2 linked regions of the Homo sapiens genome follow. The protein of the gene in region 1 purifies or fractionates together with the protein of each later gene. This does not show direct contact. Each region holds a gene or a part of one and is shown in the gene's direction. Other genes may lie near its edges.

Region 1 (3,500 bases):
TGCAAAATATTTGTTATGAGTATTTTGTCCCACATTAACAAAAATAGTAGTCTGCCTTTTTTTTTTTGAGACGGAGTCTCACCCTGTTGCCCAGGCTGGAATGCAGTGGTGCGATCTCAGCTCACTACAACCTCCGCCTCCTGGGTTCAAGCGATTCTCCTGCCCCAGCCTCCCAAGTAGCTGGGATTACAGGCGCGCACCACTGCACCCAGCTAATTTTTGTATTTTTGGTAGAGACGGGGTTTCACTATGTTGGTCAGGCTGGTCTCGAACTCTTGACCTCGTGATCCACCCGCGTCGGCCTCCCAAAGTGCTGGGATTACAGGCATGAGTGACCGTGCCCAGCCTAGTAGTCTGCCATTTTGAAATGCTGTATTTTATGAACTTGGTATATCTTTTTTTTTTTTTTTTTTTTTTTTTGAGACGCAGTCTCGCTCTGTTGCCCAGGCTGGAGTGCAATGGTGGAATCTTGGCTCACTGCAACCCCTGCCTCGCAGGTTCAAGCGATTCTTCTGCCTCAGCCTTCTGAGTAGCTGGATTACAGGTGCCTGCCACCACAGCCAGCTAGTTTTTGTATTTTTAGTAGAGAAGAGGTTTCAACGTATTGGCCAGGCTGGTCTCGAATTCCTGACCTCAGGTGATCTGCCTGCCTCAGTCTCCCGAAGTGCTGGGATTACAGGCGTGAGCCATAGCACCCGGCCTGAACTTGGTATATACTTTTATAAAAGAAAAGACTTTCAAGTCATATATATTAACTGAGGCATTTCTTTAATGACCCTCTGACCAAACTAAAACTTCCTGCTGTGAAGTTTCAAAATGGCATCCCATTGAGTGACTCTATATATAGAAGAATCTAGCAATTCCTTTTCTGTTTGCTCACAATTTTAAAGATGAATCTTTGAAAGTTAAAAGGGGCTCAACACCTTCTGCCCCCCAGTGTATACAATAGTTTTTTTTTTTTTTTTTTTTGAGACAGGGTTTCACTTCAATGCCTAGGCTGGAGTGCAGCGGCACAATCCCTGCTCACTGCAGCCTTGATATTCTGGTCTCAGGTCAGTCTCTCACCTCAGCCCCTGAGTAGCTGGGACTACAGGTGCATGCTAACCACACGTGTCAAAAATTGTTTTTTTTCTTTTTTTTTTGAGAGAGAGTTTTGCTCTTCTCCCTCAGGCTGGAGTGCAGTGGTATGATCTTGGCTTGCTGCAACTTCTGCCTCCCGGGTTCAAGTGATTCTCCTGCCTCAGCTTCCCAAGTAGCTGGGATTACAGGTGCGCGCCATCATGCCTGGCTAATTTTATATATATATGTTTTTTTAAAACAGGGTTTTGCTCTTGTTGCCCAGGCTGGAGTGCAATAGTGTGATCTCTGCTCAGTGCAACCTCCGGCTCCTGGGTTCAAGTGATTCTCCTGCCTCAGCCTCCTGAATAGCTGGGATTACAGGCGCACGCCGCCATGCCCGGCTAATTTTTTGTATTTAGTAGAGACAGGGTTTCACCACGTTAGTCAGGCTGGTCTCGAACTCCTGACCTCAGGTGATCCACCTGCCTCGGCCTCCCAAAGTGCTGTGATTACAGGCGTGAGCCACTGCCCAGGCCTGTATTTTTAGTAGAGATGGGGTTTTACCATGTTGGCCATCTGGTCTTGAACTCCTGACCTCAAGTGATCTACCTGCCTCAGCTTCCCAAAGTTCTGGGATTACAGGTGTGAGCCACTGCGCCTGGCCTAATTTTTGTATTTTTTTGGTAGAGGTGAGGTTTCACTGTGTTTCCCAGGCTGGTCTGGAACTCCTGGGCTCAAGCGATCTGTCCACCAAGACCTCCCAGAGTGCCGTGATTACAGATGTGAGCCACCATACTGGCCTATGATACTTTTTTTTTTTAAGTGTACTTTTCACTCAAATTTGCAAGAATGTAGCAAACCAAATAAAGCATTGTTCACTGGAAAGCGTAGTTTGAGAAGGCAGTAATTAGAGGTGTAGACTTAATATGAAGCCATTTGTTGAGTTTTTTCGTTTGTTTGTTTGTTTTTTAAGATGGAGTCTTGCTCTGTTGCCCAGGCTTGAGAGCAGTGGTGTGATCTCGGCTCACTGCAACGTCCGCCTCCCAGGTTCAAGTGATTCTCCTCCCTCAGCCTCCCGAGTAGCTGGGATTACAGGCGCGTGCCACCACGGCTGGGTAATTTTTGTCTTTTTAGTAGAGATCTGGTTCACCATGTTGGTCAGGCTGGTCTCGAACTCCTGACCTTGTGATCCACTCATCTCAGCCTCCCAAAGTGCTGGGATTATAGGCGTAAGCCGTCGCACCCACAGTGATTTAAAGGAATGTAGTGTATATATTTGAGAAATGCATTTATATCTTTAATTCTGGAAAACACAGCATTAACTAACCTCCAGCATACCTGTTGCTTAACTGTGTTACAGTTGTTACAGGGAAATTCCTGAAATGTTGAATACGTTGCAACCATGTAGGATAATTTTTTGTTGATTCTGAGAACATAAACTTTCTTCCAGTATATTCTCACACCACCAGATGTGTGGGGTTTTCCCCTGCGCATCAAGCAAGCTATTCAGCAGTGGACACCACATGGGTATCCTCTAATTCAGTATTATTCTGACACGGTGTACCTGAAGATAGCATCAGATCCCACAGGTTGAAAGCTCAAGTCCCATAGACAGTCCCCCACTTCCAATGCTAATCTCAAGTCCCAGGTGGTTTTACCTGTGTTTCTGACCAACTGACTATAAATTGAGTTCCTAATACCCCCTTCTTTTGTTCAGTTAACTTGCTAGAGTGGCTTATGTAGAACTCTCGGAAATACTTAGGGTTTTTTTTTTTTGGAGCCGGAGTCTTGGCTCTGTCACCCAGGCTGGAGTGCAGTGGCACGATCTAGGCTTGCTGCAACCTCTATCGCTCTGGTTCAAGCGATTCTTCTGCCTCGGCCTCCCAAGTAGCTGGGATTATAGGCATGCGCCACCACACCTGGCTAATTTTTTATATTTTTGGTAGAGATGGGGTTTCATCATGTTGGTCAGGCTGGTCTCGAATTCTTGACTTCAAGCGATCGACCCACCTCAGCCTCCCAAAGTGCTGGGATTACAGACAGGCATGAGCCACTGTACCCGGCCAACACTTAGGTTCAAGAGTTTATTATAAAGGATATGGATGAGGAGGTGCGTAGGAGAAGTAAGGGCCGCGGAGCTTCCATGCCCTCCCCTGGCTACACTGTGCCTCAGCTATCTGGAAGCTCTCTGAACCCAGTCATTTATGGGCTTTTATGGAGGCTTCATTACAGAGGCACAGTTGGTTAAATCATTGACCTTTGGTGGTCACCTTAACCCTTAGCACCTTTTCCCTCCCTGGAGTTTGGAGGAGGTGGGGCTAAAAGTCCTAATCCTCTCATCTTGCCTTGATCTTTCAGGTGACCAGCACCCATGCAGAAACTACCTAGAAGTTGCCAAGCTATCAGTCAACTCAGCATACAAAAAGAAACTTACCATTCTA
Region 2 (3,500 bases), on another chromosome or scaffold:
TTATGTCCAAGGATGTTTAACAAGTTACATAATTATATAAACATTTTGGACCTATGTATTTAAAATGCTTAAAATAAGTCTCAGTACCTGAACATAAAAACTTTAGTTATACGGACATTCTACTTCAGTAGACATTTCATTACTTGATGATGCCTGGTAGGAAAAAACTGCTACTTTGCTTTCATCTTATTAATCTTAGAAAACCTTTTCATTCAGTAGGCTTCTAATTTATATGTAAATTTGCCAAAAATTGGCTCTGATGTGATTTTTTTCACAGCTAATAGAAATCACCTGCGAGTGTCAGGTGTTCATTCAATAACAGAACCCCAAAAAGAAAGACGTATTAATCGTTTAGTAGAGGTGGTTGATATAAGTTAACAGAAGAAAAAGACATTGAGAAATATTTTTTCACCAAAACTGGAAACATAGATATTTTGAAAATTAAAGCTGATCTAGCAAGTATACAATTGATCAAATATCTGAGAATCTTTAAAAATAATAACTCATTGGTATACTAGAGACTAAGATTGTAAAAAAAAATTGAGATGCACTGAGAACATTCTTCATAGTCTTCACTTACTCTGATAGAATAAAATGCTGCAAGAGTACAAAGAGTGCCATATAGTTAGAAAGGTTATCACTTCGTGATACAGAATAGAAAATAAATCTTGCCTATGATGAGAAGTTCTGAGAACAGATGCCAGCTTATCTACTCAACATATTTTACAACTTTTTTTTTTTTTGGTGATTTCTGCCATCCTTTTTTTCCCCCAATAGAGTGTTAAATACTATTGATTGTTTCTAAATAACTAAATTAGCCTTGATGTTTTATCAGTGATCATTGAAAAATGGAAAGTTTAAAAGTTGTCCAGGTGTCTACTAATTCTCCTAAGATATCGACTGCACATTGTAATGTTATAGTAGTATAGTCAGCAGCTTCTCTTACCATGAAGAGAGAGCCTTCATACCAAAATAGTACAAAGGGAAAAATGCAGAACCAAACTAGGTGTCAAAGAAATCTGAGTTAATAATGCTGATCCTTCAATCATTAGATATTTGCCCTTGGTTGAGGTTTCTGTTTACAAAGGCAGGAATTTTTCTCAAATTTCTTGCCTTTCCATTTTTGAATTTTGATTCCATTAATGGGCAAAACTGAAGATAGGCCTAAGTCATTGTTATATTAGTGTCATTAACACATGAATTAACCCTTGATTGTCTTGAAATTTGTTGAGTCTTCCAACTGTGGAGGGGACATGGAGTAAATGTGTATTGCTAAAACCTTATGCTAAGTAAACTTGAAATTAGAGAACACAAATTTTATGTTGTGAGGAACTCAATTGTTTAGGAATTTATTTTTTGTTTGTTTTGTTTTGTTTTAGAGAGAGGGTCTTGCTGTGTTGTCCAGGCTGGAATGCGGTGGCATGATCATAGCTCACTATAATTGTGAACTCCTGGGCTCAAGCAATCTTCCTGCCTTGACCTTCCAAAGTACTAGAATTATAGATGTAAGCTACCATGTCCAGCTTCTGTTTAGGTATTTTATACTACGAAGAGTCACCAGCCGTAGATCAACCACTATCTAGCCAGCTCCAGCTTCCTCGTCCAGCATATAGGAAACTAAGGCCTAGGGAAATTAAGTGACTTGCCTCTGGTGACCAAGCTAGTCAGTGGCAGAGCCAGAATGAGAAACTAGTCTAATGCCCTTTCTACCATCCCGTAGCAACTTTTTTTTTTTTTTTGAGACGGAGTCTCACTCTGTCGCCCAGGCTGGAGTGCAGTGGTGCGATCTCAGCTCACTGCAACCTCTGCCTCCCAGGTTCAAGCAATTCTCCTGCCTCAGCCTCCCGAGTAGCTGGGATTACAGGCGCACACCACCATGCCCGGCTAATTTTTTGTATTTTTAGTAGAGACAGGGTTTCACCATGTTGGCCAGGCTGGCCTCGAACGCCTGACCTCATGATCCACCCGCCTTGGCCTCCCAAAGTGCTGGGATTACAGGCATGAGCCACCGCGCCCAGCCCCTGTAGCAACTTTTATGAGGTAAACTAAAAAAGAATACAAAAGCGAAGTTATGTACTATATTTAAGTAGTATTTATAGTTTCATTTGGCCTATAGGAATGGAAGACAGCATAGCTATCTGAAGAAATAGAACTCATCTATGTGTGATCTCTGAGACTGCTAGATTTCCACATACATTTTCTTTTCTGTTTTTTTAATTTTTTGTTCTTGTTTTTTTGTTTTTTTGAGAGACAGGGTCTCACCATGTTACCCAGACTGGTCTCAAATTCCTGGGCTCAAGCAGTCTGCCCACCTAGGCCTCCTGAAGTGCTGGAATTACAGGTGTAAGCCACTGCACCCAGCCTCATGTACATTTTCAAAGGCTTTATAGCAGTTAAGCCTTTTACTTTATAATAGATAACCATTCTGATTCAGAAATAATTTGAGACGAGTGCTATCTTGAAATGAATTAACTTCAGCTAACTATTGAATCAAAAGCTTGACATTATTTCTACTTAGAGTTACTTATTTTTATCTTTTTTCAAACTTAGAATCACTTTAATTACATTTCTAACTGTATGTGTTTTGTAAGAACCGCTTAACAATATCCTTTGTCCTGATGCTAGAAATTGTTTGATAGTGTTGACACTGTGCAATCTATTTAAATAGATTTGTGGATTTCTCCTATGTCCACTGAATAAAAACTCTTGGTTTTACTTGAGTTTATTACACTATTTTCCTACAGTTCAGAATTTTTTTTTAAGTAACCAGCAGCATATGTTACATATTTTGACAACTTAAAAAAAATCAAAAATCTTCAAAAATGTTTTGGAAGAATAACAAGATTTTTTCATCTTACCTTAAAAAAAATTAAGATGAGAGGTGAGTAGTTATCCTAGGAAACTCTGAAGTAAGCAATATAATTTAAGCAAAACCTCTATATTCTTCAACAACTATCTTTTTTCTTTAATCTCAATAACTGCCTCAGTTCTCATTTTTGTGAGTATAAATAACAGGCCCCCTTTTTTATTTAATTGGGGTTAAAGTCAATTTTATAGGAAATTTCTAGTTGATCTGTGACTTGAATTACTAGCATATATGTTACATTTATAAGTACAGCTGGGGCTGGGCGTGATGGCTCACGCCTATAAACCCAGCACTTTGGGAGGCCGAGGCGGGTGGATCACCTGAGGTCAGGAGTTCAAGACCAGCCTGGCCAGCATGGTGAAACCTCATCTCTACTAAAAATACAAAAATTAGCTGGGCGTGGTGGTGGGCACCTGTAATCCCAGCTACTTAGGAGGCTGAGGCAGGAGAATCACTTGAACACCTGGGAGGTGGAGATTGTAGTGGGCCGAGATTGCACCCATTGCACTCCAGCCTGGGCAACAGAGTGAGACTCCGTCTCAAAAAAAAAAAAAAAAAAATCAGCCAGTGGCGCATGCCTGTAATTCTAGCACTTTGGGTAGCTGAAGTGGGTGGATCTCTTGAGCCTAGGAGT

The links. The genes of interacting proteins can lie anywhere in the genome.
Region 2: the proteins of CNOT1 (region 1) and BTG3 purify together in Homo sapiens (affinity purification with mass spectrometry; one large-scale study listed by BioGRID and IntAct). This does not show direct contact.

Annotation. Positions count from the first base shown.
Region 1 is NC_000016.10:58,623,327-58,626,826, reverse strand, and holds part of CNOT1 (CCR4-NOT transcription complex subunit 1), read left to right. Parts: intron 1-3,500.
Region 2 is NC_000021.9:17,599,402-17,602,901, reverse strand, and holds part of BTG3 (protein BTG3), read left to right. Parts: intron 1-3,500. UniProt on the Homo sapiens protein: Overexpression impairs serum-induced cell cycle progression from the G0/G1 to S phase.